Linked DNA regions of Homo sapiens: region 1 is linked to region 2. A link means that fine-mapping ties the variant in region 2 to the expression of a gene that starts in the linked region. Tissue or cell type: tibial nerve. Region 2 holds a variant in brackets; the other region holds the start of a gene. All regions are shown on one strand. Distances are from middle to middle.

Region 1 (5,145 bases), 84 kb before region 2:
ACAATGAGCAGGCAATTCTGGGAGCAGAAAACAATTTGGACATTATACGTGCTGTCTTTTTATTTTCAATTCTCTGTCTCCTATTAGTATATGACTGGCTGTTTGCCTTTTGCTGCAAGACAAGGTTTGTGTTTGTGCCTGGGCTATGCACAAGCATGTGTACACACACACACACACATAGAGGGGAGAGAGAGAGAGAGAGAGAGAGAGAGAGAGAGAGAGAGAGAGAGAGAGAGAGAGATGGCCTCTTGGGAGAGCCTGCACTCATTTTTTAGCTTTATCTCCCAGAAAATGCCCTCAGGTGGGAGGAAGAAGACAGTGTTGTGCTCCTAGCTTTTCCACCCTTTCCTGCTCTTGAGCATGAGAATTTGGATCTATTTCTTAAACTCTTTCAACCTTAGTTCAAGATAAGTTTGGAATTTCTAGGTCAAGAGTGAATCCTAAAAACTCCGTCACCCCCTATATTCACCGCTCTTTAGCTTGTTTGCTTGAGATAACACTGTGTTAATTACTATATTTCCATTCTGCTTAATTACAATGTTTCGGTAGAAGAAGAATTGCTCCTAACAGAAGCAATTATCTTATAGGTTATTGCAAAGGTCTAAGGAAGGTGGCAGAAGCTGGTTGTGATACTGTGGTGATGGAATCAATGCTCCAGGTTTTGTTCCAAGTAAATGATTCAGAGATTCTAACCAGGCTGGGTTTGCCAAAGAGCAGGTGGTAAGCCAGGCCAGTAAAGAAACTGTCTCTTCCGGAGGGTTGGGCTTCTGAAGCTCTCTTGTATTGAGAGCTCTTGAGTAATCACTGTTAATCAATACAATGCTTTAGGATGCAATTAGGATTAATTAGCCCAATGTTGCTAGCTGCCCTGCTACTTGGTCTGTCTCTTTGGGTGCCTCCTTGTCCTGGCTCCTGCTTCCCCTGAAAAGGAAAATTTCCCTCTTTGTGTCCCCAGCCTGGAGTCTCCTCTCTTCCCTTCCTGTGCCAAGCCCCCAAACCCCCTCTCCACTTTATAACATGGAGAGGGAGAGCCAGGAAAGGCCTTGACATGATAGTGGGAAGAAAAGAATGAACACAATCAAAACATGGTAGCAAACAAGAGGGCAGGTGAGAGAATGTGTGAAGGGTGGAGAATATTTTGGTTATCTTTCAAGGGAGAGCTGTGGCTGACAGAGCCACTCAGAAGGCATTTTGTCTATTCTCCCAACCAGACAAATTGGAAGCTCTCCTGTTCATTCCCTGGTCCTGCAGTATGGAATAGCTTCGTGGTTTTTTGTGTTAATTAAAAGGTATCTCTATATTGCACATACTTCTATTTTTTGTGATGACAAAAACATTCCCCATGGCTCTGCAGGGAATGGGGGTTGGGGGGGGGGCACGCTCATTGCAGTGGAAAGGTTCCACGGTGGAGATCAGGAGACCTATCCCTATCTCAGCCTGGGACTCTGGGAGAATGGTCCAGAGCTCATTGTCCTTGTTGATAAAATGATAGATTTGGACTCAATATCCCATGCTGCCTCTTCCAACTTGATTTTTACCCCAGACTGGGCTACCAGACTGGTATGCCCACACATGCCCGTTTCCTTTCTTTTCTTCTCTGCATCTCTGCCTTTGTGTCCAGAGCGTGTTTTCCCTTTGCAAGTTTCTCTCCATTCTGCACATTATGAGTTTCAGCATTTCTGTTGCCCTAGAAAGTCTATCTTTGAGATCTTGCACTGTTTCTCTTTTTACAGTGTCTCATAAACTCCCTTCTTGGATTCAGAACCACCCTTTCTTTCCCATTATCCTGTCAAACTGCTTCTTGCCATGGTCCAGGGGTAGGAGGATGGCAGGCAGGAGGTGCTTCTCTGGGGCTCTTAGTGTCTCAATTCTTCTGCTTTATCTGGGTTTTCCTTTACCCAGAATTTTATTATGTAAAATGCTTCACTCAGACTTTGTTCTAATTATCCAATTTTTGGCATACTCTAGAAAGTCTTTTGATATTTTCCTTCCTCCAACTTATCTATTTTTATTTCATAGTTCTCTTTGGTTATCTCTTAGAATCACACTTTCCTGGTTTTAATTTTTCAAATCCTTTGTCTTTCTCACTCGTTCTTAGGTCACCTTTTTTTACATTTTCAAATATATTTTTTGTTCAGCAGAGGGCTCCCTTCCCATCCCTCTTGCAGCCCGGGCAGCTAGGATTTGAAGCTTGCCCCTTGAATCTTTCTCTCCCGCCTTCTAGCCATCAGAAACACTAGATCACTTAAACTTGTAAACAATTCGGCCTCGCTCCTTGTGATTGCGCTAAACCTTCCGTCCTCAGCTGAGAACGCTCCACCACCTCCCCGGATCGCTCATCTCTTGGCTGCCCTCCCACTGTTCCTGATGTTATTTTACTCCCCGTATCCCCTACTCGTTCTTCACAATTCTGTAGGGTGCGTATTACTAACCCCAGTTTACAGCTGAGGAAACTGAGGCTTGGAGAGGTTCGCTCGGTATCGTACAGTTTGCAAGGTTAACCCTAATCCGGCCAGTTCTGGCTTTCCAGCCCAGCCCAGCAGCCTAGCCTCCCTCTCTGCCGCTGCAGGTTATAACGGCTCTCCCCCGTTTTACACGAGGTCCCTTCCCCTTCAAATCCACAGGCAGGAAGATCGTTCCGAACTGACGGGGCTGGGGAATGTGGGAGTCCGGAGTGGGGTTTGGGGGAGCTTCCTCAGGCCCTGAGTGTTGGGGTGGGCAGGCCGCGCCGATGGCCCTCGGGGATGTCACATTCGAGATGGGGTGACCGAGAACGGCAAGGCGGGATGTGGCAAACGGCGGCAAGTGCTCGGAGTCCTAGGTCTTGCCGCCGGAATGCCGGCCGGGGAAGGGGCTTCGGCCCACCGGGCTGGTCACCACACTCGGCAGGCCCGGGGCGGGAGTCGGCCGAGCAGCCGCGGGATGCAGGGCGCCCCCTCGCGCTCCTCCGCGCGCCTCGAGGCTGGCGGGTGCAGCGCCCGCCGCGGCAGGTCTGCTCCAGCCCCCTCCTCTTTTTCGCTCCCGCTCCCCTCCTTCTCTCCCTTTGCTTGCAACTCCTCCCCCACCGCCCCCTCCCTCCTTCTGCTCCCGCGGTCTCCTCCTCCCTGCTCTCTCCGAGCGCCGGGTCGGGAGCTAGTTGGAGCGCGGGGGTTGGTGCCAGAGCCCAGCTCCGCCGAGCCGGGCGGGTCGGCAGCGCATCCAGCGGCTGCTGGGAGCCCGAGCGCAGCGGGCGCGGGCCCGGGTGGGGACTGCACCGGAGCGCTGAGAGCTGGAGGCCGTTCCTGCGCGGCCGCCCCATTCCCAGACCGGCCGCCAGCCCATCTGGTTAGCTCCCGCCGCTCCGCGCCGCCCGGGAGTCGGGAGCCGCGGGGAACCGGGCACCTGCACCCGCCTCTGGGAGGTGAGTCCCGGGAGCCCCGGGCGCTTCCCCTGCGCGGGTTGGGGCTGCAACTTGCAAACTTCAGCAACTCGGGTGGGTATCGGGGTAGAGAGGTAGGGGTCCGGGCTCTGGCAAGTTGAAGCCAGGTAGGTGAGGCTGCGGGCGGGAGGACAGGGGGTCCCCTGGCTTCCGCGCCTCCCGCTGCCACCTCGGCTTGAGAGCCCTCATCGCTGCTGCGTTCCCGCCGCCAGCCAGCTTGGGTCCGGGTTGCACTGGGCCCTGCCAGGGCTGTGGTCGGCGCATCTGGGCTGCAGCGGCGATGGGGACCCGGGACCCAGGCCTGGAGAAGGAGACGGACGAGTGAGGCTGAGGGACGGAGGGACAGAGGTGCGGAGATGGAGGCTCAGAGAGGGCCGGCTAGTAAACAGCACTGAGGGAGAGTGCGGGCGGCGAGGCGCGTGGGAACGCGTGGCCCGCCCAGAGTGTGAAATCTCCCGCTCAGGGACGTCCCTGCTCCACCGCCGCCGCCTGCGGAGCCGCCGCCCGGATTCTTCCCAGACCCGCCTCCAGGACACTCTTGCCCTGACCAGGCCTGCGGAGCGTGAACTCTGCCCACCAGGCTCCAGGGGCAGTGGCTCAGGGCCCCGCACTCCCGGCTGGGAGGGTGGAGAGGGGTGCGGCAGCTGGAAGCAGGGACGCGAGCGGCGATTTCCCGATTTATGTTTCTCATGGTAATTTGTCTTTGTGGTTGGGGCTGCCCATTCACTTTCCGCTCACGTCCTGCGGGAGATCCAGCGAGGAGGGAGGGAGCGGGGGGCGCTCGGGCACAGAGAGGGATGCAGACGGGAGAGGGGATCGGGGACCCGCGCGGGGCGGGAGCCAAGAGGGAAGTGGTCGCCGGACCGGCGGAGGAAGAAGGCGAGGCTCGAGAAAACCCGGCCCAACGGAGCCGACTCCTTTGCCCACCGCAAACTTTAAACAAGGAGGAGGATCACCTGCAGCGCCGTTCTGGCCCCCTCCTCCCCGCCCCCGCCCCCCACCTCGAGCCCAGTCTTTGGGTAGTTCCGACTGCCCGCCGCGCCAGGCGGGAGTGGGCCGAGAGTCTGGATGGGGAGAGAGGAGCGCTGGATTCTGCCCGCACCCCTGCGATCCTGCCCAGGCTTTCTGCAGAGGGGCGGGGTGAGAGCAGCAGGAGCCGGGAGGGCGGGCTACCCTGGCATGCACTCCTTCCCGGCCAACGGAATTGGGACTGAGGGTTTGGAAGCTTGCCTGTGTCTAGACCTCACCACGATCCTACCTTCTCTGGCCCTAACCCCATCTTTTTCCTTCAGCCCCTAGTGAATCCGACCTCCTTCCGCTTTTCTCAGGCACCCCAACCCACTTCGGCCTCGGGGCCTCTCTCCACAGCCCTCCCTGCCTGCTTGCTCCTCGGCCTCCCCACTTCAGCTCATCTTTTTAAGCCTGTTCTCTTCTTGACAATCAGCAGTGGCCTCTCACCTTTTCTAAGCCGGGACAGATGACCTTGAGGAAGGGGCAAGAGGGGAACTTGAACCTTGTAACTGGACCTCAAGATTACGGAAAAGGGGGGCAGATTTGAAAGCAGCTTGGAAAGAAACAGCCAGTACCTTTCCCGAAGTCTAGATTTTCAACGGAGGAGGAAAGGAGATAAAATATAGGAGAGATGGGGGAACTTGCCACTTGGTCACTCATGGGGCGGTGAGAACTGTTCTGGGCCTTGGGGCGTGGGGGTAGACCACTCGGGGCAG
Region 2 (5,145 bases):
AATTGGGTTGGGGGAGGAAGTCAGAGAGGTGGGAGATGTCTTCTGTGTGTGCCTGGGTTCCTTGAGACCATTTTTGACCCTCAGGTATGCATTGAATGAATCTGACTTCTCGCCCCATCCTCCTACAGAATGAAGGAATGCCCCTCTCCCCTTCCCCATTCTGACAGCTTTGAGTTTTCCTATCCGTTTGCTGAATTTTTATTGGGCCCTGCTTTGTGCCAGGCACAGAAGGGGATGCTGTGGGGCCTCAGAGGTGAACAAGAGTTTCCTCTGCGTACCTAATGATCTCGTATTGTTGGTTAAAAGTCACTGCCTTTGGTCCCTCAGCCCAGCTGGTACTGGTTCTGGTCCTGGACCAGGACTGGTTCTCTTGTGTTCCCACATCCCTTAGCACAGCTGAGCACACAGTAGGGACTCAATTCATGCTGGGCAAAGGACTGTGCTCTGGGGATGCTGTGTTCAGGAGAAGTTGCCCTAATCAAGGACAGCACCAACCCCAGCCTCCAAGCCCCCTAGGATGTTACACTTCCTTTCTGACCAATCTGTAGGCTGCCAGCCTTGTAACTGTGAGTTTCCCTCTCCCCTGACACCTGACTGAGCTGTGAATAACCCCTAAATACCCTAGAGGAGCTGCCAGTCACAGAATCTGACTGCTGTTTTTCTGTTTTGTAAGGCTAAATTTTCCCCTGTGGGTTTCTCTTAAGGGGGGCCAAGCTGTGTTTCTCTTCAGCCTGCATATTCTCTCATTTGCCAGTGTTACCTTTCCAGGCAGCAGGAGAAGCCAGCCTGGACTTAACAAATGACGGTGGTTAATCCACAAGGTGGGTAATTGAATTGACTATAATTAAAATCACAGGCGTGTCATGGAGAATGTCTTTTTCTCTTAAAGTCACCGTCCAAAGCCTTTGCCGCACACAGAGCTCGGAACGTGCTTGGTGTTTTAAAGACAGCCTTCCCTCTGGTCCCCTTGGCCTGTTTAATACGAGCAGGCTGGTTCCCTTCCCAAGGCCCCCCTAGGATCCCCGTGCTATGCCCGGCTCCTTCTCTCCCCACTTCCCCCATCCCCCTTGCCCATGTGGGTGAGGGCTACTGGGAGAGGGACGGAAACTGGAAGAGGCCACCACCCTCCATGCCCCCACCCCCACCTCCCCATTTTTATCCCATCTTGTACCCTGTTTCCTCTTCTTTTCCCCTCCTCCCCAAGAAAGGGCCTAAGTGAAGACTGAGCTGGGAAGTCCCCAGATGGAGTATCTACTGCAGACCCGTCATGCCACCTCCTCCCTCATTTAGCTGCCTACATCTGGAATGCCCTTGTTGAAAGGGAAGGAGGAAATTAAGGTGCTTGCTGCTGTTAGGGAGCACCCAGTCTCATAGGGACAGGGAAGACCCTGCCCTACACACACAGAAAATATTTGACCACATTCAGAGTGGTCAAATACACCATAACATACAATGTGAATGGAATGGAAAAATAGAGAGAATGTGGAGCAAAATAAGATCAGGGTGGAGAGGTTGTAATCCAGGAACGCTTCCTGGAGGAGGAGGATCCTTGGTTTCATTTCTAAGGTAATGTAATATTTATCCAGGATTTCTGAGAGGTCAGCTAAAAACCTAACCCACCAGACTCCAGATCCACTTCTTATCCTATATTGCCCAAAAGCCATCGTGACTACATGACAATTCTTGCCAACCTATAGTCACCAACCTATAATCACCTGCTGGGGGCAAAGGCAGGCCCAAGGGGTTTGCTTCATTTTGCTGCAGAATTTCTTTCTTCTTCTTTTTTTAATCATGCCTATCACAGTTTTCTGAAAAACATCCAACTCACAAAACCTCCAGTTCTCCAGGGAGCGATTAAATGTTTGCCTGTCGTGCAGAAATGAAGGGCTGCTTTTACTCTGTAGTGGAGGGATAATGAGCAATGATTTATTTCCTTTGGATTACACACACACAGACTCTCTCTCTCTCTCTGCCTCTCTCTCTATCTCTCTCTCTCTCCTGGCCCTTCTGTGAGTCAGTTGCTAAGGCACTGTGGGGAGAAAGCACAGTGCCTCCCATTACCCTGAATCTTTACCAACAGCGGCATGAAAGTTCCTCTGCTCCATGGCTCTCTCCTTACTGCTGCCAATTCCCACCCATCCATGGGTCATGCATAGGCTGAGGGAGAGCTATCAGGAGGCTGTGAATCAAGAAGGGAGAAGTGTGTCTCCAGCAGGAGGGAAACCGGGCGAGTCAGCTGGCACTTTCTAAGCAGGCCCTCCCAGACCACTCCCCATCCGCCCAGAGGCCGTGAGGTCTCCTCTCTGCCCACCCAGTCCCTTTGAAAGGCCTTGATTGGGAACAACCTTCCTTGGAGGCAGGGTGGACACTGACCGCCCAATCTCTGCACCTCCCACCTCTGCAGAATCTTGTCTGAAAATCCAATTCCCCTCATACAAGAAGGAATTGAGGATTATTCATATATTCGTTCAAACACTGCTAGGTGCTGGACTGAGCCTGGAGATCTAGGAAGCAAAGTCTTTCTTGGCCCCCAGGGCAAACTACCAGGCTAGACACACAGTGTGGCAGTAAAGTAGAAGACTATGGGAGCCCTTTAGCCTGGCTTGAAGCAGTCAGAGAAGGCTTCTTGGAGGAGGTAGGGATGGGGGTGAACAGGAATTGTTCCATCAAGGGAGAACAGAAGCACAAAGGTTTGCAGGCTCTTGTGGGATGGATTTGGGGAAGTGTGAAGTGTTTTAGTGTGGCTGGGGTGGAGAGTTTAGGGAATGTAAAAGGTGAAGCATCATTCTTTCAGGGGATCAGTAAATAATCACTGTGCCAGGCACTGGACTTGGGAGGACAGTGGACCAGAACCCAAGGGCCTTCGCAGGAGTTGGACTTTTCCTGGGGGTAGTTGGGAGCTATGGATGGGTTCTGGGCTGGAGAGTGACATGACCACATTTGCATTTGAGAACAAGCGTTCAGGTTGCTTTGTGGGAAAAGGACTCGAGGGGCAGGCCTGGAAGCCAGGCTGGTTAGGAGGCTGTTGGCACTGCTCCAGACAAGAGCTGGTGGTGGCTTGGATGTAG[G/A]TGGGATACAGTGGGAAAAAAGTGGATGGATTTCAGAGGCAGTGTAGAGGTAGAACAGGCAGGATTTACCAGTGTGTACTTATGTGGCTAGTGAAGGTCTGGGGGAAGTCAAGGGCGAGTATAAGTATCCCTTCATGCCTCTGTGGGGAGGGTAGTGCCCTCCTCTGAGCTAAGGAGTGTGGCAGAAGAATGACTACAACACCCACTCCCAAGTCCCTAGGGGCACACAGAGGTGGGCAGGTGGCACCAGGTCTCCCGGGTGCCACCGCCCCACTTCCCCCTGACTTTCACCCTTCTGTTCTGTGGTCTGCTGCGATGCAGCTGGGAGCCTCTGGCCCAACAGTAACCACAGGGTTGCCTCTCCCTCCACCAGACCTGCAGCCGTGGGTCTCTAACTTCACCTACCCTGGAGCCCGGGATTTCTCCCAGCTGGCTTTGGACCCCTCCGGGAACCAGCTCATCGTGGGAGCCAGGTAACAAGGGGCAGAAGGGTCGGGGTGGGAAGTGCAGGGGCTTGGAGCTGGGTAGAGGGAATATTATTCAGGATGAACTCACCTGGGCAGCCCCGCGTGCTGGGCCCCATCCTCTCTGCTGGGCCCTCTCCTTGTGGATGTCTGTCCCCCCACAGGAGGAAGCGTGTTTCGGCTGGGTGGGGGTGGGGGTGACTCTTGACCTCGCAATCTCAGCCAGCTGCAGGCCCCTGTGGTTGGCAGTTAGTGAGAGCAGGGACGCCTGCTGGCCACCTCCTGCCCGGTCCCTGCCTGGTCCCTGCCCGGCTGTCAGAATGGTTTTCTGGGCCAATTCCCCGGGAGTTCCATGCAGAGAAGGTGCCCAGGGGCCCCCTGCCGGCCAGCCGGCGGCCTGCACCTGGGACGGCTGGGTAGGGGTAGAACCTTTCCCGAAGGACCTCACCTACCTTTGGCCTGACCTCTTAGTCCACTGTTCAGATCCAATATCAACAGACAGTACTCTCTGGGGGAACCTGTGGAGACTTTCTGGGTGGACTAGGAGGAGCTCATTCCTCATGAAACCACAGAACATTGGCTCTGGTAGGGAGGGGGCTTAGAGAGGGCCGACCCCAGTAGCTCTCATGGTGCAGTCTCTGGCCCAGCAGCACCCGAGAATGTGTTGGAAATGCAGATTCTTGGGTCCTTCTCAGACCTCTTGAGTCAGAAACTCTGGGAAGAGGCAACCTGTGTTTTAGCAACCCTTCCAGGTGGCCTGACCACACTCAAGTTTGAGAATCTCTGGTGTCATCCAACCGTCCTTATTTTAAACAGGCGGTAGCAGAGGCACTGAGAGGGGAAGGTGACCTTCCCAGCATCACATAGCATGATGACAACAGGGTGTGGGGACTACAGCCAGGTCTCCTTAACCCAGGCCTAGAGTTTCTCTGCAGGTCTGTCTGTGTTATCGCCTGGGACTGCACTACTTTTCAGCTCTGCAGCCCAGAGGTTCTGACTCAGTGGGTGTGGGGTTGGGGAGAGGATGGCCACTGGGTTGGGCACTTCCGGGCCATGCTGTAGCTGACCATCCTTGCCCTGGAGCTTTCTTTAGTGTCTCCACCCCTTCATTTGCTGTATGAAAATGAGGCAAGTCAAGAACACAGCTCTGGATTAGGTGTGGATGAGCTGGGTTCCTGTCCTGGGGGATCTTGACCTTGGAGCCTCAGTTTCCTCATCTGTAAAGTCTGGGTTACAGTCTCTGTGCCACCAGTCTCACAGGGCTGCTGTGAAGCTGGGCCTGAAAGCATTTTTCTTTTAATTTTTTAATTTTTAAATTAACTATTTTGTCTTATGGTAGGACATTCAAAAGGTACAAAGGAGTATATGGTGAAAAGCAGGGCCACCCCCTCAAACAAGCAGGACCCCTGACTGAAGGTTCACCTAGTGGTGAGGTTCCTGACTGTGCCCCCAGAGGGAGTCTGTCCATATGCAACTATACAGGAGGATGGACTTTATTTTCCCAGCAAAGAGAGTAATTGTTTTACTCTCTATTTTGAGATGACTGTCGATTTACACACAGTTGTAAGAAATAATAGAGATCCCATATACCCTTCACCCAGTTTCCCCCAAGG

The links. PIP is the estimated chance that this variant, and not a neighbour inherited with it, causes the effect.
Region 1: SEMA5B starts here. The variant in region 2 is fine-mapped to the expression of SEMA5B in tibial nerve (GTEx, PIP above 0.99).

The regions. Positions count from the first base shown.
Region 1 is chr3:123,025,719-123,030,863 of GRCh38, reverse strand. It overlaps SEMA5B (semaphorin 5B), which reads left to right and starts at 3,101. Exons shown (of 23, transcript NM_001031702.4): 1 at 3,101-3,400. RefSeq lists an enhancer at 1,990-2,497.
Region 2 is chr3:122,941,832-122,946,976 of GRCh38, reverse strand. SEMA5B (semaphorin 5B) reads left to right here. Exons shown (of 23, transcript NM_001031702.4): 4 at 3,442-3,541. Among named protein-coding and RNA genes, the nearest start is that of LINC02035, 58 kb to the right of the region's middle. The variant G/A (reference allele first, on the strand shown) is at 3,069.